3 separate regions of the Homo sapiens genome follow, and all the other regions are linked to region 3. Evidence: fine-mapped expression QTL. A gene starts in region 3. Each other region holds a variant in brackets. All regions are shown on one strand. Distances are from middle to middle.

Region 1 (9,733 bases), 72 kb before region 3:
TCACCCACCGCCAACAGCGCCCCGCAGAGCTCGGTTCACCCACCGCCAACAGCGCCCCGCAGAGCTCGGTTCACCCACCGCCAACAGCACCCCGCAGAACTCGGTTCACCCACCGCCAACAGTGCCCCGCAGAGCTCGGTTCACCCACCGCCAACAGCGCCCCGCAGAGCTCGGTTCACCCACCGCCAACAGCGCCCCGCAGAGCTCGGTTCACCCACCGCCAACAGCGCCCCGCAGAGCTCGGTTCACCCACCGCCAACAGCGCCCCGCAGAGCTCGGTTCACCCACCGCCAACAGCTCCTCGCAGAGCTCGGTTCACCCACCGCCAACAGCGCCTCGCAGAACTCGGTTCACCCACTGCACAACCCTGTTTCTCTCCTGGCCACCCCCTTTTCTGCCAGCTCCAGCCTCCACCCTGTTTGTCCACTCCACGCCCAACCTCGCTGTGCCCTTCAGCCTGGAACAGCCTCGCTGCCTCCCTGACGAGCTCCTATTCATCCTTCACAACCCGGCTCAGATGCCCCCACCTCAGGGAGCCTTTCCCAGAGGCCCAGCTCTGTGAGCCCCACGGTGACCCACACAGACCTCTATGTCCCCACAAAGGGGAACAGCGTGGACGCCAGGAACGCCCCCAAGTCATGGACTGAGAGGGGGGCCCAGGACTTTCGGCGACTCCCGCGTGGGGCTCTGCGTGTCTCCCGAGGCGCCCTGTGATCGGGGCCTTCACTTGCTGTGAAGGTGGGCCTCTCGCCCTTTCCCACCCCTGCTGCACACCTTGCTGCTGAGTGAACGCGTCCTCATGCGCTGGAGCCAGTGCTGCCCCTTGGGCCGTCAGCCCCACCCCTCAAAGCCTCCTGAAAAGGCCCCCGGTCAGAGCTGCGCTGGCGGAGTCTGGGCTGCCCTGTGTGACCGCTGCCCGCCCAGCAGTGCGGGGCGAGACCGGGCCTCCCTCAGCGTCCCCTCAGCACTTGGACAAGCTGCAGAACCCACAGGGAATGGAATGTCTTCCTCCCAGGGGCCAATATAAACAGCAGGGTGCCCGGCTTTCCTAATTTAGTTGTTGGTGGCTCTGGCCAGCCAGAGAGGTCGTTTGAAAATACAATGAGACTAGAGGCCATCACAGCGCAGGAGACACACCCGGGCCCACCATGATATGGACAGCAGCCCCTGTTGGCAGGTTCTTTGCTGGGGACTTTCTGGCCAGCAGGGCCTGGAGGTCACTGTTCTGCCCAGTCAGTGGCTGTGCTGGGCTCACCCGAGCCTGGCCCTGCGGCAGGGAACACCCTCAGCCGCAGTTTCCTCCTCTGAGAGAAGGGCAGGGCCGGTTTCACGTGGCAGCTGGGCCTGCAACTGTCTGGCTGTTCCAGGAGCCTGCTCAGAACACGGACCAGCCTCAGCCATGTCACACACATCCCTGTGCCAGCCTCCACATGTTTCTGACAGGGACACTTGGATGCCCTCGGCCAACAGCGCTTAGAAAACATGTCCTGGGCCTCCATCAACACCAGAGGCCTGCACTGCCATTTCCTGCCCCTCTGCGGATGAGCCTGGAGCCGCCCCCCCTTCCTCCCCTTGGCAGATTGGCCCCCACCCTCCCTCCCTCAGTCCCCAGCCTCCCTGCCCTCTGCGGCTCAGCCCCCGGCTTCCCTCCCCTCTACAGCTCAGTCCCGGCCTCCCCGATATGCTCTCAGGGCACTACAGGCCTGTCTGGGGGCACACATCCTGGCTGTGGCTCCATCTGTGCCTGTGGAACTGCTCTTGTCGCTGTGGTGCCAATGCTCCTCTTCCAGGGGCAGGGCCACGTGCCTCTGCACATCTCCCTGAGTGTGCTGAGCAGGGGTCTTCTGTTTTCTGTTTTTTTTTTTTTTTAGATGGAGTCTTTCTCTGTCACTCAGGCTGGAGTGCAATGGCGTGATCTCGGCTCACTGCAAGCTCCGCCTCCCGGGTTCAAGCCATTCTCCTGCCTCAGCCTCCCAAGTAGCTGGGATTACAGGGGCCCGCCACCACGCCCAGCTAATTTTTGTATTTTTTTAGAGATGAGGTTTCACCATGTTGGCTAGGCTGGTTTCGAACTCCTGACCTCATGATCCATGCCCCTCAGCCTCCCAAAGTGCTGGGATTACAGGCATGAGCCACCATGCCCAGCTCAGCCTCTTCTGTTTTTATGGCTGCTTGTTCTGTGCCCATTTTCCCCTGAAGCCATGAAGATCAGGGAGGGCGACACCTCCCTAGGTAGCCAGCGCCCAGCAACCCCCTGGGGCAGGTGAGGAGAGGGGAGGGGCCGTTTGGCAGCTGCGGTGGCAGAGTCCCTTCCACAGCTCATGGACAGAGACACTGGGGCTGCACCTTTGGGCTCCTGGGGTTCTTGCTGGTCAGCCTAGAGGGACGAGAGCCCTTCTGGAGACGCGGACCTGCCCGTGTCCGGGTGGGGCAGGGTGAGAAACGCCTGCCCGCGATGTGGTCCCCAAGCAGAGTGTGGACCTGGAAAGGGTTTAACCAAAGGCATTGAATAAGTGGCCTCCATGGCCCAGCTGCTCTACTGATGACAGGAAATGTTCTGCCCAGAGGCCAGCCAGGCGTGGGCTCAGTGGCCGGCTCCAGGCGACCAGGCAGGGTCCACCGAATTAGTGTTATAAAAAGAGAAGGGCTGGGTGCGGTGGCTCATGCCTGTAATCCCAGCACTTTGGGAGGCCGAGGCAGGCGGATCACGAGGTCAGGAGTTCGAGGCCAGTCTGGCCAACAGGGTGAAACCGCAACTCTACTAAAAACACAAAAATTAGCTGGGCACAGTGGTGTGTACCTGTAGTCCCAGCTACTCAGGAGGCTAAGGCAGGAGAATCACTTGAACCCAGGAAGCAGAGGTTGCAGTGAGCTGAGATCGTGCCACTTCACTCCAGCCTGGGTGACAGAGTGAGACTCCATCTCAAAAAAAAAAAAAAAAAAAAAGAGAGAGAGAGAGAAGCAAGCTCGCCTCCTTAGTAGTTTTTTTAAAATTGGTTTTAAATAACACAGATCCCTTTAATTTGAGGCTCCTAACATTTTACAAATAAATCTATACTTGATCTTAGCCCAAAGGCTGAGGAGAGATTACTAAAGAATCTAATATTAGATTTATGAAAAAGAAAATCTAACCCCAAGGGATGAGTATTTTCTAAAAATCCTGGAAGGCCAGGGGCCCGGCTGGGATCCCGTGGGGTGGCCGAGAGTGGCCCCCAGGCGGCGGCAGAGCTGATCTGGCCAATCCCCTCCCCAGCAGCTTCTGAGCATCATTGCAACGGTCACCGTCTATCTAGTAAAGCCGAGAACAAGTGTTTGCTAACTGCTCCCTGTTGATTTTTTGTAACTAGGTGGGGAATAGCTCAGACTGTACTAATGAATCAGCTGGAGAACCTGAGTATCTGTATTTCCTGGAAATAAATCTGGCTAATGGTCGATGTGGACTTTTGGGCTAGGATACCCCAAGGCCTTGACCTGAACATCTTTTTGTGACCTACATAAGATCTTATATGTGACTGACTTAGCTGGGACCCA[C/G]AAAGGGGCGTCTGGTAAACCGGCAGTGACCAACGAAGGGATGTCTAGTCGGCCGGCTGTGACTGATAATGGGGACACTGTCCATCCCAGGCTGACTGAGGCCATAAGCGCTGGATGCTCTCCCAGGCCTGAGACATGAGTAAGTCAGCAGAGGGTTCCAGGGATGCTTGCCTGCCGCCTAATTACAGCAACTGCCTAGGGTCCCTCAGTACCTGTGGGACATACAGGGTATCGGGTTAGTGAGCTTCTGTCACCAATTTGTGCTACAAACATATAGATTATAAAGGAAACCGATGAAGCAGTAGGCACAATTTCTAACACATAATAAAAACACAATATAGTATATTATATTGCAACAGGATGCTGTTATGTTGGATAATAGCGTTATTGAAGGTTAAATTCCGATTTTGAATAAGCAAACAGTGGTTACAGAAGAGCCTGTCTTTTCTGAGGAATTTCATCTGAAATATTTATGGTGAGAGGATATAGGGTCGGCAGGTTATTCTCAAATGTTTCAGAAACAATTGTGTGTGCGTGCTCATATGTGCGAGGGTGTGCGTGCGAATGCACGAGTGTGTGCAGTGAGAGATGAGGGAAAATATTAACGGCTGCTGATCCTGGGCAAAGGGGCGTGGGAGTTGTCGGAGCTAGTTTTTTTGAAACAAACTTAAAAGTGAACCATTAAGATAGGAGAGAGAGACAGCAAAGCTGCGTCATGACAGGTGTCATTCAAGGACCGTGACAGCACAGACGGCTGCTGGGAGAGGCGATGCTTTGCGGAACCCCGGATGCACCAGCACCCCACTGGCAGGGCCCCGGGGACTCTGTGCTCTCTGGTTTCCTGGTGTGTGGGACAAGACAAGGCTGTCCCCCCAATCTGCAGGCTGGTCATGGTCCCCGCCGGCACCACCAGGGCCCCAGGTCGTGCAGCCTGTCTTGCCCGAGGGAGAGCCAGAGTGGGGGGTCCTGGGCGATTGCCCTTCTCAGGGTACAAGGAGGATGGGGAAGGCAGGGAGATGCTGCCCACAGGGCCACACGATGGTTCAGACCCTGGGGACCGCCCCTGTGGCCATCAGACAGAACGTTCGCGATGTGTGTGGTGCCAGACACAGAGTGCCCCAGATCAGGCGCAGTCCCTGCCTTTGTCTGTCTGTCCCAGATCAGGCGCGGTCCCTGCCTTTGTCTGTCTGTCCCAGATCAGGCGCTATCCCTGCCTTTGTCTGTCTCAGCCCTTGTTTGCTGACCAGCAGCCGCTGCTCGGGGTGTGGCACACGAATCCCGAGACGGTCTCAGGCTGTTCTTTGAGACTCATGTGAATGCTTTTCCCGCAACAGGCTAAGTGAGCTGATAACTTATTTCTGTGTGTTAACTGGAAATGCGTTTACACACCAGGGATTTTAACCAGGGAAGCTTCTGTGTGTTAACTGGAAATGCGTTTACACACGAGGGATTTTTACCAGGGGAGCTGCAGTGCCTGCACTGAGATTCCAGTTATTTCCAACCTAATGGGACCTTTGGAATGCATTTCAATGATGGAGTTTTTAAAGCACAGATGTTTGGATTGAACATCAGTTTGGGTATTACCAATTTTATCAGCTGATATTTTATTAATTTTTATACCCACAGCCAAAACAGGTGGCATTGGCTTCTGGCAGCTTGGGCCTGAGGTTATGCAATCGCCAGGGTTTGCTGAGGGCTGTGGTGGTGGTGAGGTCTTCCAGAATTAGGGGAAGGGGAGAAGGCTTGAGTGTGGTTTTCGGATGCGTCGGGTTTAAAAGCTACTCTGTGCTCATGAACTGCAGCTCTGGGAGAAATACTCAGACCCCCTGAATCTTAGTTTCCTTGTCTACAAAATGGGGGTAGTAAAAAGGGCCCCGCTTCTAGTGGAGCATGGAATAGACAGGGGAAATAACATTCAAATGCCACCTGCTGCATGGCTGGCCATTAGGGAGCCTGCAGCAGCATGGTTCTCGGTCTGACGGGGGCTGGGCTTCGCCACTTCCTCGGCTGGGTGCTCTGAGCGGCTGCCCTGCCCACTCAAGTCACCGAGCCTCCCTGGATCCGCTTCCTCCAACGTGGGAAAGGAAGGACAGCTCTGCCATGGCTTTCAGATATGAAAACACTGGACACAATAATTTTAAATATAAATGCAAAATCTCTAATCAAAGAGTTTGGGAAAACGGATTCATCTAAATCAGCCTGAAGTCTAAACATGTGTGTGTTACTGACATGCTCATATTCCCACATGGCACATGTTCCTAGTGTGTGACTTCTGTGTGGTGTGTTCATGAGGACACACATGTCCTTTCTCAGCCACGATTGGAACTCTCCATCCCAAGTCCTGGCTTCAGAGCTCACATCCGTGGGCCTGAGAGAAAGGTGTCTGCCAATAGCTTCAGGCTGAGAATGGGCATATTCTGGACCCCACCTTCCTCTGAAGCACCCTTGTCTGCCATCTGGGAGTGAGAGGCACTCATCCTCCTGCCTGCCCCTTCCTGGTGCCTGATGTCTTGCAAGAGATGCGGATCCACAGGGATGTGCAACACTGATGCTCCCAGAGAAGAACCCCTGGGGAGCTACACCTTGCTGGGCCTAAGAGGTTGTATAATGTGCCCTCTTTTCCTTCCCTCCCTCCCTCCCTCCCTTCCTCCCTCCCTTCCTTCCTTTCTTCCCCTTCCCCTCCCCTTCCCTTCCTTCTTCTCCTTCCTTCACTCCCTCCTTCCTTCCTTCTTCCCTCCCTCCCTTTCTTTTTTCTTTCTTTCTTTTTTTTTTCAGGGTCTTACTGTGTTACCCAGTCTGGAGTACAGTGATGTGATCTCACCTCACGGCAACCTCAACCTCTCAGGCTCTGGCAATCCTCCCACCTCAGTCTCCCAAGGAGCTGGGACTACAGGCGCCAACACCATACCCAGCTAATTTTTGTATTTTTTTTTTTTTTTTTGTAGAGATGGGGTTTTGCCATGTTGCCCAGGCTGGTCTCAAACTCCTAAGCTCAAGCGATCCTCCCGCCTCAGCCTCCCAAAGTGCTGGGATTACAAGCCTGAGCCACCTGGCCACACCTTATTTCATAAGAATGTCTTGGAGAAAGAAAAATAAAAACTCCATCACTTAAACTATGGACACCATAAAATATAAGATGCACCACAATTTCAGAAAAATTAAATACAAAAATGAATCCTAGAATGAAATACAGCATCGCTGCGCTGTAGGGAGAGACTAAGTCCTTTTCAGAAGAGCTGGGGAGCAACACTGGAAGTCGCCATAAGAGCAGGTGTTTGCAAATGCCACTCACGCGATGGAAACCACTGAGAGCCACATCCATGGGGTATTTGAATTATGGCACAGGAGTACAATGGAATACTAGGCAGCAGTTAAAAAGGCGCAGATTGGTCTATGTATGGTGATACAGATAATATTTTAAAACCTAGTTTAATGAAAACAGCCAAAAGCAAACCATGACATATACCATGCTTCCTGTTTGGGGAAAGAAATAGTGTGTGTGGCATAGCACACACATGCAGGTGTGTCTCACATACAGGTGGACAGCCAGGGTGTGTGTGTGGAGGAGGCTCCTGGGAGGAGAGCATGGCCTTGTTATCTCACATAAGCAGGTGTGTCTCACACAGGCACACAGCTCGGGGGGTGTGTGAGGAGGCTCCTGGAAGGAGGCTTAGGCGACCGTGACCGTGTTATCTGGGTGGTTGGAAGCAGCTTTCCCCACACGCCGCCTTTAACAGCATTTGGATTCGCGAAGCTGTGCACACGTCATTTTTATCGCAAAAATGAAACCTGCCGGTGCCGTTTTAAACAGCAGAGTTGGCTCAGTGTCCCCTCAGTGCTTTCTTTGGCTTTTTCTTTTCAACTTTTGGGTGTCTCTGTAACAGGAAAGTGAAGCAAGGCACTGCCAGCTTTTGTTTACGATGCTTGTGGATTTTGTGTTTGTGTGTTTTAATCTATAATCAGTTTGTAAATAGACTCACTTTCTGATTCTCACGGAGGGGTTTGATTTGCGGATGGAGACCGAGTCCACCCTGTTTGAATGCAGCCGCGCCCTGCTCATGCGAGCTGGCCTTCTCTTCCATACAGCAGGGTGGAGAGGGAAGCCCACTTTCCGGTAAGCGGGCAAAACAGGTACTACGACCGTGTTACTTATGCTAGCAACAGTTCCGACTTACCTTAATTGGGTTTCTTTTCCTGAAAGGTAATTCTCAGTTAATTTCCCCACACCCACGGGTGCTGGGACCACACTCCATGGACGTGTGTGACGTGAGGCCCTTCGCCCCCGTGTGCCTGTCTCTCTGGTTCTTCTGACTTAAAGCACCAGTAGCAGCACAGTTAGTCCAGTTATTCGGAAGCTCAGCACGGAGCCACATTGCTGCAGCATAGAAGGCCACGGATTCCTCCATCAGCATGGACTACACTTCCCACAAAACGAACGGGGCATCTCTATGGAAAAAGCAAAGCGTGTCCCTATCCCTGGGACACCTCTACCCCTGGGACACACCTAGCCCCAGGACCCGCCCACCCCCGGGACCCGCTCACCCCGGGACACCACTACCCCTGGGACATGCCCACCCCTGGGACAACCCTACCCCCCCCGACACGCCCTGGGACACGCCCACCCCCCAGGACCGCCAACCCCTGGGACATGCCTACCCCTGGGACACCCCTACCCCCCGCCAACATGCCTACCCTGGGACATCCCTACCCCCAGGACATGCCTATCCCCAGGACATCCCTACCCCCAGGACATGCCTATCCCCAGGACAGACCCACCCCCGGGACACGCACATCCCCAGGACAGACCCACCCCCAGGACACGCCTACCCCTGGGACACCCCTACCCCCGGGACACGCCCACCCCCAGGACACCTCTACCCCCGGGACACGCCCACCCCAGGGACACGCCCACCCCGGGACACCTCTACCCCCGGGACACGCCCACTCCCGGGACACGCCCACCCCGGGACACGCCCACCCCCGGGACACGCCCACTCCCGGGACACCTCTACCCCTGGGACACGCCCACCCCCGGGACTTGCCCACCCCCAGAACACGTCTACCCCTGGGGACACCCCCATCCCTGGGACACGCCCATCCCCGGGACATGCCTACCCCCAGGACACCTCTACCCCTGGGACACGCCTGCTCCTTGCACTGAATGAATGCAGGGGTCATTTCCATCAAGGGGAGGCGGCCGGGGAGTGAGGCGCCTGGAAGTGGTTGGCGGGGCTGGCCCGGGAAGCCTGGACCCAATGCACCTGGGAGCTGGGAGTCCGTGGCCCCCACCTGTGAAGTCCACCAGCCTCTCTTGCCAGTCCACTCACACAGGAATCCTAAGTGGGAGCATAAAGACATCACCACTTTCCCCTTTCAAATCATCCCATAGAAGAAGACGCCCGTGGGGGTAGGGCTTGTATTTTGGATGCCCACAGAGATTCCAACCAACCAGGCTTTCTGCCCCAGTGCCTTCTCTCCCTGAGGCTGGGGCTTCCTCTGGGATTCCAACTCTGCCCAGAGGCGAGCCCTTTAATGAAATCACAACAAAAAGAGAGGCCCTAGCCAAGCGGCCAAGCACAGCGGTAAACATCAGTCAACTGCTGTTTTATTCACACCAGATGCTGCATGGAAAAATCACGTCCAAATTTATTTTAAACAAGAGCAAGTGGTCTCTTTTCCAAGACTCTCTGAGAGAGAACCTCATCACAGGGACAGCGCTTCCTCGTCAGCGAGCCCGATGGGGCAGGCGCGGAAGGGAAAGGCCTTCTCTGCATTTGGACTTGGCCCACTAAGGCAGACCACAGAGAGACGCCGGAGCTGGCAGGAGGCCATTTATGTTCTGGTTTTCTCCGTGAGTTGTTTCAAAAAGGGATTGATCTTAAAATCTAGTGTGATTAAAAAGGTGGGTGGGGTTAAGAGCAAAATATGCTGCTATATGTGTCCCGCAGGCCCCAGTGTGGACTGTTTCTCTGTCCAGGAACACACGACCCACTGTGGACATGGGAGGGTGGGGGGTGGGGGGAGGTGCATTGGCCCTCACGGGGAAACGCATGCCTGGAGGCAGAGGCAGGACAGAGGGTCTGCAGCGGGGGGGCCTGCTGGAGGCCACCACCGCAGTTAGTGTTGTTGAAGTGAGTGAGTAAACAGCATTAGCTCTGCGACAGAATAAAATACAGCGCCTGTCCAGGAGACTGCGGGTGAG
Region 2 (9,733 bases), 74 kb after region 3:
CACATCTGGCCCGTGCATTTCCCCAGAGGGCAGGGTTGCCACCCACTCTGGTACTGGAACCCCAGTTTAGCAGGGGGCTCCCAAAACAACTTGGCATAAAGAACAATCTGAAAGCACGCAGCCTCAGGGAGAGCAGGCCCTCACCCACTTCTTAGTCCTGCAGTGTGTGAAACAGTGACAGAGCATTCTGAAGAGATCCCTTAGGCCACGTGTTGTTCCCATGGTGTGAACACATTTAGGAGGACTTGGTGCTACGTGGCACAGCCTGCATCAGCTAGCAGAGAGGCTCTCAGATTGGAGAGGACAGAAGAATCATCACGAGAGGGCTTCTCAAAACACAGTTGATGGGCAAACCCAGAGGTCTGGGTTGGGCCTGAGAATGTGCATTTCCGACAAATATTCAGGCATTGCTGTTGCTGCTGGCCTGGGACCCTGTCATGAGGAGCACGGATCTGCACAGTTGTCCCTCATTACATGTTTGCTGATTGACTGAATGAGTGAATCCAGGCAGTGAGAATAATGGCACTCAGAGGAGGGGCCCAAGGAACAGAGTTGGGAGTGGTTGCTGTGCTGTGATCCCTTGAAGGTTGGTTTAGAGGCTTGTTTCTCAAACAGCACCCTCTCAGTGGAGAGGAAATTCAATTTGGAAGATGATGACTGCCATTAGAAAGGGAAGTGGAACAGAGTAGAGGGTGAGGGTGCACCATCTCATGAAGCTTTGGTTCCATTTTACACCTACTTCTCACTCGTGTGTGTTTGTGTGTGCTGATGAGGCAAAAAGTAGCTTCTCACTGAGGCAGTCAAGAAAGTCTGAAGCCACCAGGTGTAATGTCACTGAGGAAAGAAGGCCCAAATGGCAGGGGCAGGAAACAGGCCGCCCGGCGTGGTCAGTGACCAGAGGGCTGCGAAATGAAGTCCTGAGAACCCAGGGCTGGGGATGGGGCTGTGGCTCTCTTTCCGTGGGTGTGTAACTGGAATCTTTCCTTTCACAATCTAACTAGATTATTCCATGATCTATGAATAAGATGAAGTGTGGCCCAGAGAAACAGACCCAAGAACTAGAGGCAAGGGGAGTACGAGGGGCTGTGAGGAAATAATTGAAAAGGGATACATGTAGCTGTTGTCTATGTGAAGGATTACAAAAAAAGGGTGTCACTGGCAGGTGCGGTGGCTCACGCCTGTCATCCCAGCATTTTGGGAGGCCGAGGCGGGCAGATCACGAGGTCAGGAGATCGAGACCATCCTGGCTAACATGGTGAAAACCCATCTGTACTAAAAATACAAAAAATTAGCCAGGCGTGGTGGCACCGCCTGTAGTCACAGCTACTCGGGAGCCTGAGGCAGGAGAATCACTTGAACTTGGGAGGCAGAGGTTGCAGTGAGTCGAGACTGCGGCAGTGCACTCCAGCCTGGGAGACAGAGCGAGACTCCATCTCAAAAAGAAAAAAAAAAGGGTGGGGTGAAGGGGGGCATCACTGTTTCAAATTTAAAGGTTGATAAAGGGGGTGATTTATCACTGAAGTCTCTCCGCTGCTTCAGTGGTCTGGGGTGAGACGTGCCTACGAGCCAATGTGTCCATAAGCCGATGTGTCCCAGCAGGTGTCACCTGCACCCCGTGGGAAAAGAGCACATTTCTGGGGGGCTTTCTCTCTAAGCCCATGCTCGCTTCAGGTGTCAGTGTTGGCTTGCGCCCCCTGAGCACACGCAGGTCTGGACGGGGTCGCGGGTCTGGACAGGGTCGTGGGTCTGGATGGGGTCGCAGGTCTGGATGGGGTCACGGGTCTGGACGGGGTCGCAGGTCTGGACGGGGTCGCAGGTCTGGACGGGGTCGCACAGCTTTGGACCGGGTCGAGGGTCTGGACGGGGTCGCGGGTCTGGACGGGGTCACGGGTCTGGACGGGGTCGCAGGTCTGGACGGGGTCGCAGGTCTGGACGGGGTCGCACAGCTTTGGACCGGGTCGAGGGTCTGGATGGGGTCACGGGTCTGGACGGGGTCGCAGGTCTGGACGGGGTCGCAGGTCTGGATGGGGTCGCACAGCTTTGGACCGGGTCGCGGGTCTGGACGGGGTCGCGGGTCTGGACGGGGTTGCACAGGTCTGGATGGGGTCGCACAGGTCTGGACGGGGTCGCGAAGGTCTGGACAGGGTCGTGGGTCTGGACAGGGTCGCAGGTCTGGACGGGGTTGCGCAGGTTTTGAGATGGGCATTTCCTCCCCCAGCATCTCAGGGTGTTCTTGGCAGCCCCTACCCCAGGACAAACCTAGTTTCCTGTGTTCCTGGTGTTTGTTTTACAAAAGCCTAAGCAGCAGGAACATTTGCAGACTCTGCTGAGAGGGCGAAAGGGGAGGCAGGCATGCAATGTAGGCAGAAGCTGGGAGGGGCTGGACAAAGCTTCTCAGACTTCAGAGTTGGGACCGGAGGGCAAGAGAAGGGCCCAGCTGCCAGGACGTGGTAGCTTCACAGAGGGCAGGGCCTCAGGACACTGGCCACTGCTGCCACATCCCGGGCACAGGGAGACAGCCCAAGGACAGACAGACGGGTCCCACGGGCCTGTGGGTGGGTGGCATACAGAAAGTGAGCCAGCTGCAGAAGCCAGAGAGCACTTCCTACCCAGCCGAACGGCGGCCAAGACCCCGCTGCTCACCAAGACGTGGCCTTGTGAGTCGGTCCTGGACGCCGGGGCTGACTAGCATGACGGTTTGCAAGGGAGGAAATGGTGGCCCTGGAGGTCCAGTTGTTCACTCAAGGCTGCTCAACAGGACAGTGACATTCACAGAGAAAGCCCTGTAATAGGGCTGCCCACCTTTCACACACTGAAAGCTGACTTGAGAGGCTGTTTTCTTCACTGTATTGATGGACAGCTTTGAGTTGGTGTTGGTCATGGCCATCTTCCCTCAACACTTTAATTGAAATGTGAAGTTACAGAATAAGAGGTCAAAGGCACCCTGGGGACTGCATGGGCACCTCATCCATGGGTAAGGCTCTGGGCCGGGGTTCACATCCTGAAAACCTGCGTTCAGGAGTCTGTTTCTCACTCGAGGGGACTTTGGTGTCTCCAGAGATGTTCACTGCGCTTTGTTCTCAGAAGGGCTGCTCTGAATCTCACGAAGGGAGTGAAGGGTCAAGGCATGTGAATGGCAGTGAGAGCCCCCTACGTGGACAGGGCCTTCTGTCCACAGAGTGGCAGAGAAGAGTTTGTTCCTGGAAGAGCTCCACCCCTGGAGCTGCAAGGCTGGGGCCCAGGCGCGCTACAGCTACAAGCTTCATCACAGCTCCCTCTGCTTAGGCTGTCACTGGCTCACGGTCACACAACCAGGAAGGAGTGTCAAGCACCCACCACGTAGCGCCCACTCCACGTCCCTCCTATCCTGCCCTCGGTTTCAGAGGCTCAGTTGCAGACCACAGAATCCCCACCAGCAGGTGGAAGCAGATTGAGTTTTACTCAGAGATAAAGACCGATGGTCTCCCCATCTGGGCTGAGAGCCGGTGGACGTCACTGCCAGGGATGATGCGGCAGGAGAGGTGCCCAAGCACGAGCAACACTGGCACTGGGCCCCAGGAGCTTCTCTACAGTCCACACAATGTCTAAAGGCTTTCCCGAAGGCCCAGGCCACTCCCGTGTGGCTGCACCTCTCGTTGGCCAATTCTGCCCCCCAGCTTCATGCAGATAAAGCAGTGTGTGGAACCCAGGTCGCAGGTGAAGGCCCAGCTGTGAGGGCCTCTGGCAAAGGGTGATCATACTGCCTGGGCTTTGTGGTGCAGAGGGGATCTGAGGACAGGCAGACTGGGTTTGGATTGATTCGATATGCCAGCCTGCCTGGAACTGTTAGAAGAAAAACTTTGGACTTCGTTCTACATTCAAAACAAGGTGGATGAGGGGGAAACATCCAGGGCCCCAGTGTGGTGTTATGCAGAATCCATGTGGTGCGGTTCTACTCTGTTTGTGGAGAGAGCATGTGTGTGTTTGCAGAGGGCTTGTAGGGCTACTCTGCCTCCCTGCCCGAGCTGACCCCAGGACAAGTAATCTGGGGAGTGGTCCCAGAGACACTGCCAGTGAGGCTGGAGAGGGCCCCGGTGTGGCATAGGTTCCCCGGGTGTGGGGGCTGAGCCTCTTCCCCTCCCGGCAGTCCTGGTGCCAGGCTCCACAAGGCAAAGATGCTCCGCGTGCCTGTGGGTGGTCCCGCAATGAGCTCTGTGGCTGCCAGATGCACCTCCCCTCCAAGGCCTCTGCTGCCTCCCAGTGGCTCACTTTGTTTGTGGCACTGCAAACCGAATCCTGTTAAAAAGCATAGTTAGAAGGCAGCACCATGCTCCTCACTCTTGAAAGCCGGCGGGTGGACCAAGTCTCTACCTTGAAATCCCAGTCACCGTGCTCAAAATTAACAAGTTGTCCAGTGACCTGATTCTGGGATTGCCACGCTGAGAGGTCGCGTTGTCTTCAAGCAAATACAAGAAAGCAAGTCTCAAGGAAAGCAGGTTTTGTTTCTAGAACATCAGAGGGACCCAAGCATGTACCACATTAGGCTTTTTAAACCCACATTCTACCCAGGGCTAGGTCAGCGAAGAAGGGCTTTCAATACTGAGGAAGCTCTCGGCTCCTCATTAGTCACTGAGATGACATTGTAACCATGGGAAGTCTGGGCCTTACCTCACTGCGTCCATCCCTGCCCAGTTACACCCCACTCCCACACTGCAAGCGGGGGCTTTAAACTGTAAATCTGTCAATGTCATTCCCTGAGATGACATAGGGGCCAACCTTGGGTCGTGTGAGCAACAAGATGCACAATGGCCGTGCTGATTGCAAACTGTAGAATAAAATAAATGCATGCAAGCTCACACTGCTGTCGTCACTGACCATGTCAACACGCAAACGGGGAAGAAGGACCCACTGCTCTTCCCTGCAGGAGAACCTCGATGGATAAATGCCAGAGGAAAGGGGGAAACAGAAAATCACCACGAGGCAAAGTCCACGGAACTGATTGCCGCTGACAAGACCCCCATGGATGCCAAAATCAGAGAAGTTCCAGGAGAATCAGGATTTGGTCTCCCAGTGTCTCCAGGACGATTATCC[C/A]CTACAGAGGAAGGACGGCAATTTGACCAGGAGACTCGGCAGACACCACCTGGACCTGTAGTTGGACACATCAGCTCAGGAGCCACTGAGAGACAGCCTTACCTCCACAGGATGCTTGCCAAATGGGCTTGACTTCATACAGTCCTGAGAACACGAGACAGCAAAATCCATGCCCAGGCCCCAGGACAAGGATGGTTAGGGCTGACACAGGGTCTGGCTCTGTCACCCAGGCTGGAGTGCAGTGGTACAATCATGACTCACTGCAGCCTCCAGCTCCTGGGCTCAAGCGATCCTCCCCACTCAAGTAGCTGGGACCACAGGCGCACACCACCACACCCGGGTAATTTGATTTTATTTTTTGGAGAGATGAGACCTCATTGTGTTGCCCAGGCTGGTCTTGAACTCCTGGGCTCAAGTGATCCTCCTGCCTTGCTCTCCCAAAATTGTGGGATTACAGGCATGGGCCACGGTGTCACACTGGGTGCTGGGTTTAATATCTGTGTCGTGGCCATGCTGGACACGGATATGAGGGAAGCCAGGGAGGATTATGTGGGAACTCTGGGTACTATTTCTGCAACTTTTTAGTAAGTCTCAAATTCATTCAAAACAAAAAGTTAAAAACAACAACAACAAAGAGCCATCCACTTGCCCCAAACTCTTCCTCAGCTCCCACTCACTCTGAAGATAAATTTCAGAGTCCTCCATCAAACTTAAAGAACTTCTCGCCAATTCCCTCCGGTCCACACGACCCCAGCTGTCTCTCTCCACTCATCCCTGAGATCTTAAATCCACGACACTTTCTTGGATCAACTTTCCCGACAACAACATTGCGAGGTCTCTCTCTGTGGCATTTTTGTAGCTCCTAACACCTCCTCCGCAGCACTTACCACGTCTGCAGTTAACTCAGAGCCTGAGAGATCCACCCCTCAGATCATCCGCAAAGACCCACAAGTGCTTCCCTCGGCCCCACAGACCCTTTCCACAGACCGAGAGACACTTCCCACAGACCCCCCCAACATATCCACAGACCCGAAGCCGTCCCCTCAGACCCACAGACCCTTCCCACAGACTCGGAGACCTTCCCCTCAGACCCATAACCTCCCCACCCCACAGACCTTCCCCACAGACCCACGGACTATCCCTACCTTCAGACCCTCCCCTCAGACCCGCAGACCCTCCCCAACCCACAGCCACTTCCCATAGATCCACAGACCCTCCCCTCCCTTCAAACCCTCCTCTTCCTTCAGATGCTCCCCTCAAACTATCCTCAGGCCCTCCCTTCATACCCACAGACCTTTCTGTCAGACCCTCCTCTCAGACCCACGGACCCTCCCGTCAGACCTGCAGCCGCTCCCCTCGAGCCTCAGACCATCCCCTCAGATGAAGGGACCCTCCCAACAGACCCCCAGATACACCCCTCAGACCCTCCCCTCGGGCCCTCAGCCCCTCTTCTCCAAACCCCACACCCTCCACTCAAACCCACAGACCCGCCCCTCAGACCCATGGACCCTCCTTTCAGACCCACACACCTTCCCATCAGATCCTCACACCCTCAGACCCTCCCCTCGGACGCTCAGACCCTCTTCTCAGGCCCTCGTAACCTCTCCTCAGACCCATAGACTCTCTGCTCAGAGCCTTGGACCCTCTTCTTAGACCCTCAAACCCCACACTCAGACCCTGAGACCCTCCTCTCAGAACACAGACCCGCCCCTCAGACCCTCCCCTTCCTCTCAGACCCGCAGACTCTCTCCCCTCAGACCCACAGATGCTCCGCTCAGACCCACAGATGCTCCGCTCAGACCCTCAGACACTCCCCTCAGACCCACAGACCCTCCCCTCAGACCCACAGACCGTCCCCTCAGACACACAGACCCTCCTCTCAGAACACAGACCCGCCCCTCAGACCCTCCCCTTCCTCTCAGACCCGCAGACTCTCTCCCCTCAGACCCACAGATGCTCCGCTCAGACCCTCAGACCCTCCTCACAGACCCTCCGACCCTCCCCTCTGACATTCCCCTCAGACCTATAGACCCTCCTCTCCAACCCTCGTACCCTCAGACCCTCGGCTCAGACCCACAGATCCTCTTCTACACCCTCAGAGCCTCCGCTCACACCCTCAGACTCTCCCTTCAGACCCTCAATCTTCCTCTCAGACCCAACGACCCTCCTCCCAGACCCTCAGACCGCCCCCCTCAGACCCTCAGACCCTGAGACCCTTCCCTCAGACCCTCCCAAGACACCCGCAGACCCTCCCCTCAGATGCTCCCCTCAGACCCTTGGACGCTCCTCTCAGACCCACAGACCGTCCCCTCAGACACACAGAGCCTCCCCTCAGACGCAGAGACCCTCCTCTCAGACCCCCCAACCCTTCCCTCAGACCCTCAGACCTTCTTCTCAGACCCTCAGTCTGTCCTCTCAGACCCTCCCCTCAGACCCTCAGACCGTCCCCTCACACTTTCCCCTCAGACCCTCATACTCAGGTGGGCAGAGCTTCTGCCAGTGTAGATCATGGTGCCGTCTTCCCGCGCGGCACTGCTGTCGTCCTGGTCTTCCGAGGGCGTCTTTCTGTCCGTGGCTTTCCGGCAGGGCCCTCACCTCTTCCGGTGCGCACTGCTCAGCCCTTCGCGGCTCAGGCCTGACTGAAAGCACCCGTGGTCCCTGAGCCTCGTGTGCGCTTGTCAGCAGAGCCTGTTTTGTCCTCAGTCTGTCTGGTCTGAGCTGGCGTGGACATTTGCTCTCTGGGTGCATCACAGAGACCTGCAGGGCCCTGGCGCTCAGAAGCCAGCGTGAGGTTCTAGGTCTGGGGCCGGGGCGGGCGACAGCGGGGCTCGGAGCCACCGCCACAGCCCTGCCCGACGTAGGTAATTCACCCCTTTAATAACCAGAAGACGGAAAGAAGGAAAAGGTGCAGGCCAGAGGGAACCCGAATTCCCTGTTGAGTGCGACTTTCTTTCTTTTTGCGGTCCGGTTTCTGGTCAGTGTCCTGAGGACATTATGCCATGCAGGGCGGTTCCGAATTGCCTGGGCCCAGCCTGGTGTTGCCACGGTCCCCACCCCACTCTGCAGCCCTGTCTGATCCTGACCCAGTTTTCTTGCCCACCCCTGAGGCTCAAACACTGTGATTTGAGCTCAGACAAGGTGAGTCTCAGGTTTTGAGTGAGAATGTTTCTTTTAAACGTTGGTTTGATAATTTTCTATAAAAGGCTGAACCCTGAATTGTTTCTTTTTCAGCCTGTACCAAAACGTCAGGTGGTCTCCTCCGGCCGTGCCTATCACCACCAGCCTGTGTCTCCCTGTGAAATATGGTCTGGTTCCATCATGGATTTATTTTCCCGCCTCCCAGTAGGACAGATCTCAGCTCTTTAGGCCGACAACCCCTGACAGCAACTCAGCCACCTCCTGCCCTCACCCTTGGAGCCCTGTCTACTGATGGCTCACTTGGAGCCTGGCTTGGGGTGACCTCTGTGCCAGGGTGTGCGGTCATTTCCCTGGATTCTTGTTAGAGTCCTCATCTGCCCAAGGAGATGATGACCCTGAGCTACTAAGAACAGGCTTCCTTCATGTCAGGACACAGAGACAAACATGCGCACCACGTAAGGGAAGGGAAGATGGTAAAGAGAAATTGGTGAACAAATGCCGCGGCCAGGCAGGTGGCGCGAATGAGCTGAGTGTGGCATCAGAGGGGTGGGAACTTGGTGCCGCTCAGCCTTGGCAGGCAGCTGCTAAGTAGGAATGCACAAACACTGGCCAGATCATCTGATTTTTAAAAAGCCAGAAATATGGACTTCTGTATAAAATTTTGTGATTTTTAAATGTTGGCAATGTTCTTTGCTTTTTTTCTTTTTAATCCTGGGTAGGGTAAACCACCAGTTTCCGACTTCTGTACTAAAACATGTTCTCTAGATTTTTTTTTTTTTTTTTTTTTTGAGACGGAGTCTTGCTCTGTCGCCCAGGCTGGAGTGCAGTGGTGCGATCGCGGCTCACTGCAAGCTCCGCCTCCTGGGTTGACGCCATTCTCCTGCCTCAGCCTCTGGAGTAGCTGGGACTACAGGCGCCCGCCAAGACGCCCGGCTAATTTTTTGTATTTTTAGTAGTGACGGGGTTTCACCGTGTTAGCCAGGATGGTCTCGATCTCCTGACCTCGTGATCCGCCTGCCTCAGCCTCCCAAAGTGCTGGGATTACAGGCGTGAGCCACTGTGCCTGGCCCCATGTTCTCTAGATTTTTAAAACTAAGATTTTGTTTTATATATTTATATGGAAATACAGAAAAATGCCAGAAAAAGTGCCTATAATTTTCACTGTTAACAAAATTATATAAAGTAAGAAGTAAAAGTAGCTGTAAGATCCCCTTCACTTCTCCGGTTTGCTGACGTGTGGTAGAGGAGAGGCCATACAGGTGAAGGTCTGTATGCGGCGGTCAGGTGAGCCCTGGAAGTGGGCAGGATTTGGAAGGACTGACAATGAGGAGAGCTTGCCCTCAGGTAGGAAGACAGGGTTGATCCTTATCTTTGTTTCAGTGGCAGCTGCACTCTTGCATGCATGGTCCAGTTCTATCTCCTGTCTTATATGTCCATGGAACATAACAAATCCTAGTGTAACCACAGCCCTACCCAAGAACATGATGAGACACAACTCCCTAAGTTTTCCCCCCGAAAGTAACCA
Region 3 (9,733 bases):
ATAACAAAACTGCCAAATAGCTGTACTATATATAGTATATAATGAAACAAAGTAACATCTTGACACTTTCAGATATAGGAGGGCTGAGTTTCCACTTATCTAAAGTAACTTGATGATGTAATCCCAGCACTTTGGGAGGCTGAGGCGGATCACCTGAGGTCAGGAGTTCAAGACCATCCTGGCCAACATGGAGAAACCCCATCTCTACTAAAAATACAAAAATTAGCTGGGTGTGGTGGCATGCGCCTATAGTCCCAGCTACTTGGGAGGCTGAGGCAGGAGAATCACTTGAACCTGGGAGGTGGAGATTGCAGCGAGCTGAGATCGTGCCACTGCACTCCAGCCTGGGCGACAGGGCGAGACTCTATCTCAATAAATAAATAAATAAATAAATAAATAAATAAAGTAACCTGATAAAAGCAACACTGGAAAAGAAAGTGATACACTAACTTCTCTAAATCCAAACAGACCCTAGAATCCACTGGATGCTAACGTTTTACAAAAATGCTTTACACAATAATATAAGCAGGAAATTTTTTACTCAAAACGATTTATACTCAATCTTGTTCAAATAAAGATGAGACAACTTATAAAAACACATGGAATGATTTATAACATAACTTAACAAAAGTATATAGAAGGATAACAAGGTGTGGATAAGGAAGGGGTGCCATTAGTACAAGGACGTGCCTGTCACATGTAAGAGCTGGAAATCAGGCTCCAAGCTTCCCCAGTGCCACAGCAAAGAAAACACGATTAGTTAGGAAAATCCGTTTTCATAAGATCTAAAACCTTACCAGCAGCTCAGAAGTGGTACAGATACAGACCCTTCTGGCCTAAAACCTGAGGAAACGTCTTCTGCGGCTCCTCACAAAGTTCAATGTCCCCTCACACATACCAATTCCTCACCAAAATGCCAACCACGTACAGCAGAGCCAGCTTCCAGAAGTTTTTTTTTTTTTGAGACAGGCAATCAAAAAGCATGCTGATGCCAAAATACCAGAGGACGATTCTGCAGAGGCATTAAGATAACGCTGTCCAGATACATACTCTCCCGTGTGCATCTGGGATCCTGGGTCCTGAGGCCTTTCAGGAGTCCCACAGAACTACCTTCCCGAGCGTCCTAAGCCGCCACCAGCCTTGCTCACTCTCATTCTCACAGAGTGCACAGCAGAGGCCTCCGTGGGCTGCAAGGCCTGTGATATCACAGGAATGAACGCGAGATTCGAGAGCCTATCTTTTATCAAGCCAGACATTAAGATATTTGCAAAAATGTAATGGGTTTTTATTGCTAATTAACTATAGAAATATTTTAATACTATTTTAATTTCTAATATGGTCAATATTGATGACTATTACCCACACAAACAAGAACTCTCATTTAAGAATGACTGGGGTTCCAATCATTCTTAAAAACATATAGGAAATGTGCTACATATATACCATGGCATACTACATAGCCATAAAAAGGACCGAGATTGTGTCCTTTGCAGCAACATGGATGGAGCTGGAGGCCATTTTCCTAAGTGAACTGGCGCAGGAACAGAAAACCAAATGCCACATGTTCTCACTTGTAAGTGGGAGCTGAACACTGAGCAGGCGTGGACACAAAAAAGGACCAACAGACACCAGGGCCTGCTTGAGGGTGGCAGGAGGGAGAGGATCCCAAAACTACCCACCGGCTACTGTGCTTAGTACCTGGTTGACGACATAATCTGTACACCAACTCCCATGACACACAGTTGACCTTTATAACAAACCTGCACATGTACCCCTGAACCTAAAAGTTAGAAAACAAAAAACAAACCCAAAAACCACATCGAACTCCTGAGACTAAACACTTAAGAGAATGGCTAATTCAGGTGATGCTAGGCAATTAACATTTCGGCTACTCAAACAATGAGTGTTGAGCATTTGGGAGTCTTGGATCCCTTTTGGAATCTGAGGAGTCACAGGTCCGCCCTCCAGGAAAACATATATGGCCCTCACACGTGCAGGCAGCTTTGCATAAAATTTCAGGGGTTTCACAGATGGCTTAAGCCCATCTGCAAAGTCCTCACAAGGGGAAGGTAGAACTCAGATTAAGAACGGATGAAGAAGATCAGAAGCCTTCATTCAGCCAACTTTGTCTCTTAATGTTCCAGACAGCAGCCATCTCTGCCATCTCAGGCCTGTGGGTCTGTTGCCAAAGCAGACAGCCGTAGGCTGTGTTCCAATAAAACTCAATTTACAAAAACAGACAGCTAGCCTGTGGGCTGTAGTTTGCCGACCCCGATCTAGATTCTAGAGGAATAAATGGAATACATATTCACTACATTATTTCCTGAAACTGAGCTTTTGAAAAGAACTAAACAAAAAATTCAAGGTTGTATTCTCTGGTAAGATCAAATTTAGCTAAATTAAGGCAGATCCCATAGTCTCTGACCGTAAGCTGACAAAAGATACAGCTAGAGTCTTTTTATGAAGTTGACAGCCTTCCCAAGGGAGGGTGAGCAAAGCCAAGAATTACCTCAAAAACCTTAGGATAAAGACAGAAGTGCAGCCCCCAAAATGGTCCACCACCAGGAACAGCCATGACGCCCTTATTATGGAAGTGGTCATCGTTGCTAGATTTAAAAATCTGCCATGGTTATACAACAACATTTACTATATCCATATAACGGAACATAATTCGGCCATAAAAAGGAATGAAGTATTGATACATGCCACATGGATGAACTTTTGACACTGAGTAAAAGAAACCAGGCACAAGAAGCCACACAGTGTATGATTCCATCCACACAGCGCACGACTCCAGCTGCACAGTGTACGACTCCAGCCACAGTGCACGAGTCCAGCCACACGGTGCACGACTCCAGCCGCACAGTGCATGAGTCCAGCCGCACAGTGTGCGATTCCAGCCACACAGTGTACGATTTCACTTATATGAAATATCCAGAATGGGCACATCTATATAGAGAGAAAGGTGAGTGGTAGCCAGGGGCTGGGGCAAGGGAGGAGTTGGGAGTGACTGCTAATGGGTACAGTTATCGTTCGGGGTGACAAAAATGTTTTAGGACTAGATAGAGGTAGTGGTTCCACAAATTTGTGAACGTACTAAACACCACTGAATTGTACACTTTAAAATAGTTAATTTTATGTTATATGAATTTCACCTAAAAAAATTCAACATTGTACCCTCAGACCCTCCAAGACCAATCAGCAGACTAATATACTCTTCGGCGACTGAATTATTTAACCAGCATTATACAACTGATGACTCCACACCAGGAATGTGCAAATCTGGAAGATATGATGGTGTCTGATCTTGAGCTCCTGCCGATAACCCCTTGAAGCCTCCCCTAATGTGTGACAACACCATAACACCAGCAGCCTAATTTCTTGGAACTCTAGAAGAACAGATGCAGGAGCACATGGATCCAGGCCACTCAAAATGGCTTTGAATCACTACTGTTAGCTAGAGTGGACAGAAGTCGGTATCCAGAAACACGAAGAGCCCCCTGCAATCTACTCAAATTGTCTGATGTCACAAGATACTCCAGTAAACCCTGAACCACACGGTGGTGCCAAGGCACTGGTTCTGAAGGAGCAAGAGAAGCTTTGGGGTCTAGGCTTAGTCCATTAACAGGCCTCTGGTCAGTCAACAAAGCTGCAATCATTTGATGTCACCCCTTACAGGTTTCTCCATAAAATAACAGTGATTAAAGCAATGATCGATAGCTAAGTCTAAAGACTAGGTGCTTCATGTCCAAAAGTGACTGAGAGACCCAAGTTACCTCTTGTGAAAAAGGGAACTGGCATAAAGCTTCTTAGGAAACAAAAAGGCTCGTCAACTAAAAAACTACAGGGGAGAGAAGGAAGCCGAGTCCCTCTAGACAGGACTAAACCCAGATCAAATTTACAAAGGCCCAGACATTGGCAGTAAGCTTTGAGTGCACCAAGAGAGGACTGAACCCAGGTCAAATTAACAAAGGCCCAGACGTTGGCAAGAAGCTTCGAGTGCACCCAGACAGGACTGAACCCAGGTCAATCTAATCAAGGTGGATACACTGGAACTAGGGCCGCCCTTCAAGCTCACAACCTTCACTGAGGCTTACCACATCATGCAAATTAAATTATTAAGGCCAGCTTTTAAAGTGTGTACATGGGGTGGGGGGAAGGCATTTTCTAGGTTTCATTATTTCTGTTAAAATGTACACAATTCTTGAAATAAAAATCTGGACAATCCAGTGGAAACAGCAAATAAAATCTCTAAACTATAAAAAAGTCTCAAACACTTTAATTGTGACCTTGTGAAATACGACTCATATAATCTGGCACCAAGGATACCCATATGTAAAATGGAAAGAAATTACTCTTAAAATGTCCTTAGGGTCAACTTACCCGGGGCTGGCGGGCCAATCATGTTGATCGAATAAACTACGTAAGTTTATGGATCACTTTCACTCTGTTTCGGTATACAGCACGCTAGAGGGAGGGGGAGTTAAATTCATCCCTGCTCTTGGATCTCCAACCTCGGCAGCAGTGGAACGCTCCTCTCCAGCATCCTGAACATGTTCAAGTTTTCCCCAAACTAAGTTCCTGTCCACTCTGCCCCTGTCCTCCTAAAAGCTGGAGCAAGCTATCTCTACCTGCCCAGGTGTGCATCCTAACTCAGGCTACCTGGCTCCAGCCCGGCCTCCGCAGTGACCCCTAAAGGTCACAAAAGCTCGGCTGCTGCGGTCAGTGGGATCTTTTCAGCTGCTCTTTTGTTCAGCACTGCTGATGGCTCCCTCCTCCTTTAAACTCCATCCTCTTGGTTTCGACACATTCTAGTGTCCTGGTTTCTCCTACCAGCCCCCTCTCAGTCTCCTTTGTGGCTCTTCTCCCATCCTGAAGCTTGTCCTCACCCTCCACTCCCCTCTACACGTTACCGTGTCCCTTCTCCGGTGGCTCTCTGTGCCTTAGCCAGGACAATCTTTCAGCTCCTATACGTCATCATCGCCTACCACTAAGGGTCTGTGCATTCTGTTTCTTCTGCCTGGAGCCGCACACGGCTGGCTGCCCCGGAACCTCACTTTTTCTCTGGCTAATTTCCAGAGAAATTCTCCACAGTTCAACTCACACCCTCAGCATCTGACACCACTCCCACAGCCGCATCCTACAAGTTCCTGGAACCCGTGCCTTAGCCTTTGTCCCAACTGTGGTCAAACAATTGTGCATCTGGTGCCTGTCTCCCCTGCTGGGGCATCAACTCCCTCAACGCCAAGATCATGCCTGGCCCAGCACCAGTCACACCCAGCAGCACCTTGCTGGCCTCTGAACCGATGTGGACTGAATAAATCCCATCCATCACCATTTCCACCACATTTCAAAGTAACTGATGTGCACCTCCAGCAGCCTCCCTCCTGCGCTGCGGAACTCTACCAGCTCCACAGATGCACACCTACAGCCACGCTACAGCTCCCGGCTAGAGCCCGCGCTAGGGCCCCGCTGTGCCTCTCCCTCCCCTCCCGGCAGCAGGGCCTCCCCCGCGAATCTGAGCTTCTCGCGGATTCCTTCCTTGCGCTGTTTTGGTCAACAGCCTCAGCATCTGCACAGACGCCCGCAGGAGCAGCCGAGCCCTCGCCCGCCTCGACTGCCCGTTTCGAAGCCGCCCTGGGAAGCCCCCGGCCTGGGTTCCCGCTCGGCCCCGGCCCCTGCCCCAAGGCCCCTACAGTTCCTCCCGGCCCCCGCCCTCCGCTCACTCCCGGTCGTCCCTCGCGGCTCCGGGTCAAACCCGCGCTCCCCGCGGTCCCGCGCCTCCGACGCCACCGCTCCGGCTCGCGGGCCCGCGGCGCGTTCCTCCCTCGGATCCACGCGGAACGCCCCGCGCAGCTCGCTGGGCTCGGCCTCCCACATCCAGCGCGCCGCCTGCGCCGACCTTGGGGCCCGACCCCGACCCCGACCCCGACGGGCAGAGGCGACGCCGGGCCACCTACCATCTCCCCCGCGCCGCCCGCTTCTGGCCGGCCCCGGCCTTCTGCGCAGGCGCGGCGGCGGCTCCGCCCTCGTCCTCGGACGGCCGCGGCCCTCGGCTCCGGGGCAGTGCCGGGAGCCGGCCGCGGGGACTCCCACTCCCGGCATGCTCAGCGCCGCCCGGGGGCCCACGGGAGCTCGCGCCCCACAGCCCCTGCGCGTCCAGCCCTCTGCGAGGGCCTTGGCTCGCCCCTGCGGGGTCCAACGCCAGCCTGCGGCTGCCAGGCCCCACGCCGGCCAGGAAGTGCTCGCCGCCCGCGGCCGACGGGACCCGCCCACGCCCCGCCTCTTAAAGGGGGCAGTGACTGCGGCTGGGCGGGAGTCCGGGTCGGCTTGGCTGAGCGGGGGCGGTGCTGGGCAGGGCGGCGGCCGCTCCCTCCCGGACTCCCGGCCTCCCGGCCTCCCTGGTCCCGCCTGGGAAGGGATGCAAGGAAGCCCTCCGGCGCTGCGCTCCGAGGCGGGAGACAGCGTCCCCCTCCGCCCCTCGGGTCCTGGCGCCTCAGAGCCCGGCCCAGGCCGCGGAACGGTGATGCTCGGGCCGGACGGGCGGGCGCGGATCCCTGCGTCCCGGTGAGCACCAGGCCCGTCCATCCGGGGCTCTTTCCCGGGGTCCCCTTCCTTCCCTCCCTCCCTGGGGCTCCCCTCCCCTCTCTCCCTCCCCGGGGCTCACCTTCCCTTCTTCCCTTCCCAAGGGTCCCCTTCCTTCCTTCCCTCCCTCCCTGGGGCTCCCCTCTCTCCCTCCCCGGGGCTCCCATTCCCTTCTTCCCTTCCCAGGGGTCCCCTTCCTTCCTTCCCTCCCTCCCTGGGGCTCCCCTCCTCTCTCTCCCTCCCTGGGGCTCACCTCCCCTCTCTCTCTCCTCGGGGCTCCCCTTTTCTTGCAGGTATTGTCTCCCGGGGTCGGGTGGTCTGTGTGGCCTGGGGTCCCGCTCCTCCAGGCCTTGCCTAGGCGCTCTTCGCTGAGGCCCACGTTCTAACCTGGAATGGAACCTGCGTTCCCACCCTGGCCGCCCGGGTGGACTCGGGGCCTCCAGGGCCGGCCGCAGAGATGCAGCCCTGTCCCTGGCCCCCCTCCTGTGACTCCTAACGGCTCCTCACGGTGTCCATGACCCAGGGTGTGGACGCCTGCGCGGGGGAAGCAAGACCGCTGCGTATCGGGTCCCTATTCACTGCCTGTTTTTCTGATTATTCTGTCTTCCAAATTTATCTTATTTACCGGCTTTTTCAAAAGGAGTGTCTTAATGATTGGATTACTTGTGAAATATTTGTAGTTTTTTTCTCCTACAGGCTTGACTTAAATATTCTAAAGCTTTTTTGTGGTTGTTGAGACAGAGTTTTGCTGTCGCCCAGGCTGGAGTGCAGTGGCTGGTCAAGGCTCAAGCGATTCTCCCGCCTCAGCCTCCCCAGGAGCTGGGGCCACAGGGAGCATCACGCCCGGCTAATTATTTCATTTTTAATAGAGACAGGGTCTTGCTGTGTTGCCCAGGATGATCTCCAACTCCTGACCTCAAGCAGTTCGCCCACCTCAGCCTCCCAGAGCGCTGGGAATACAGATAATTGTGTCGTAATACAGCAGTGGCATTAACCACCGCACCTGGTCTTAGGTAGAATTTGAAAACCTTTTTATTTTGAGATGGTTGTAGATCACATGAAGTTGTAAGGAGTAATACAGAGAAATCCTACAGAGTGCCTTTGCCCTGTTTTCTCCAATGGTAGCACCTTGCAAAACCATAGTATATGTGGGGAATTTTCTTTGATCAAATCCCCTGACCTGTTGAGATTGCACCAACTATACATGCACTAGTGAGTGTGAATCTACACCTGTGTGTCTTCTCAATAAAATTGAGATTTTTTTTCACTCAGCCTTGAGATACATCCGCATTGTTATGTGTATCAATTGCTCAAGATGCAGAAATTCTAAGAATTCATTATTTAAAAAGTAATCCCAGCACTTTGGGAGGCTGAGGTGGGTGGATCACCTGAGGTCAGGAGTTTGAGACCAGCCTGGCCAACATGGCAAAACACCGTCTCTACTAAAAATACAAAAATTAGCTGGGTGTGGTGGCGAGCGCCTGTAATTCCAGCTACTTGGGAGGCTGAGGCAGGAGAATTGCTTGAACCCGGGAGGCAAAGGTTGCAGTGAGCTGAGATCACAACACTGCACTCCAGCCTGGGTGACAAGAGCAAAACTCCGTCTCAAACAGCAACAACAACAAAAAAAACACATTACAGGAATCCAAAGTGTCTTTTTAATAACTAGAACAGCTAAAGATGTTTACTAATTTGCTCAAAAAACATGCTACAATTTAGTAGTCAGTAGGATTTTGGAGGCAAGTTTGAAGATAAAATGAAATGAGTTTGAATAAAGGTGATTTGTATTTTAAGGGTCCATAAATAATTTCAGTTTCATGTTATGAGTATGTTTCAGTGGGAAATTTTAGTATAACTACAACTAAAATCCTCAAAGGTTTCTCATAAAAATTATAGCTCCCTTAGAGGGACAACTAATTTTAGGAACCTGATTGAGGAAGGAACCAGAAATGAACATAGAGGTGTCATTCACACATGAGCTGTGTTGAAACTTATTTTTCTGAAGCATAAAATCCATCAAAGAATCACTTTTTGGGATCTTTTGGGGAAACTGGGAAGTGTAAGCAAAGCATCTCAGATTTCTGTCTTGGTTCTGGAAAATACTAAAAGTTCACTTGTGAAGTAGCTGTTGATTTATTTAGCTCCGTTGGACCAACCGAGAGAAGCTTAGCAGTTGAGTGAGTCATTAAAATAACAGCTCAGCTATATGGCTAGGCATGACTAAGTGATTGCCTCATTGTTTGTTTTTAAGGTGGTAAATGTGTACTTAAAGTTGTACACGTGTACTTAAAGTTGTATTGAAACTAACATAAAATTGAGTGATTGGAACAGCACATTATCATTTATCCTATCTTGTTAGGAAGTTACCTGTTCTAGGTAAGTGAATTCTCTGTGGAGTGTGCTTCTCCTTTTGGGAGTCAGTCTCCAAGAATGTTTTGAATTGAACACTTTCTAACCAGAATATAGTCTTTTCTTGGTGACTTTTGCTTGTAATTCTGATCAGTACTGTTGTCTAACACAGTACTGTCTTCAGGACCTGCTGGGGTGCAGACAGTCGCTGAGCCTTCACCGAGTCATCTGGCCTCCAGGCTTTTTTAGTTCTCCTGTTTGTTTTGCATAAGGTTTGTCTCTTTCTGTGGCTGCCATTTCATGGTTTGGGCAGAATGCTGCCTCCAGAAATGCTGCCCTTACTTTTGCTGCATCTAACCTACTTTGCCTGGGAAACTCGATTAAACCAATTAGAATTTGGGTTAGCAGTGAAATGAAAGTATAGATATATAGATACATCTTTTAGTAACCAGGTTTCCAGGTCGGGGAATCTTTGTAATATGTGATGGTTGAGTAGGAATTCCTGAGTAACAGTCCATTGGATGCTGCTATGAAGAATGGTTAGGTTAATATTTTGTTGTTGTTTACTTTAAACTGTAAATCTGCGTAAGTGGTAGGTGTTGGTTTTGTTGCCTTTTTTGGGATAGCTACTTGTGACTGGTGATCTCCTAGTGGCCAAATTCCACGGACTCTACGTTTATTACTCCTTCCTTCCACGGTCTCGGTTTCCCACCTCTCAGCTCGTTCTGCCTTAGTGACCTTTGCTGGCCGCTGTCTCATCCTGCTTTCTGAACAGTGCTCCTGTCTGGGTGCCTTGCCC

The links. PIP is the estimated chance that this variant, and not a neighbour inherited with it, causes the effect.
Region 1: its variant is fine-mapped to the expression of DCUN1D2 in whole blood (TOPMed, PIP 0.98).
Region 2: its variant is fine-mapped to the expression of DCUN1D2 in whole blood (TOPMed, PIP above 0.99).

The regions. Positions count from the first base shown.
Region 1 is chr13:113,412,826-113,422,558 of GRCh38, forward strand. The region is part of intron 7 of ADPRHL1 (ADP-ribosylhydrolase like 1); the gene reads right to left. Among named protein-coding and RNA genes, the nearest start is that of ADPRHL1, 36 kb to the right of the region's middle. RefSeq lists enhancers at 4,024-5,024, 5,025-6,025, 8,218-8,930, 9,643-9,733. The variant C/G (reference allele first, on the strand shown) is at 3,532.
Region 2 is chr13:113,558,379-113,568,111 of GRCh38, forward strand. No RefSeq gene overlaps it. Among named protein-coding and RNA genes, the nearest start is that of TFDP1, 22 kb to the right of the region's middle. The variant C/A (reference allele first, on the strand shown) is at 5,071.
Region 3 is chr13:113,484,707-113,494,439 of GRCh38, forward strand. DCUN1D2 (defective in cullin neddylation 1 domain containing 2) reads right to left here and starts at 6,005. Exons shown (of 7, transcript NM_001014283.2): 1 at 5,961-6,005. The coding sequence starts at 5,963. SLC9D1 (solute carrier family 9 member D1) reads left to right here and starts at 6,315. Exons shown (of 13, transcript NM_017905.6): 1 at 6,315-6,567. RefSeq lists an enhancer at 5,176-5,475 and a silencer at 5,706-6,625.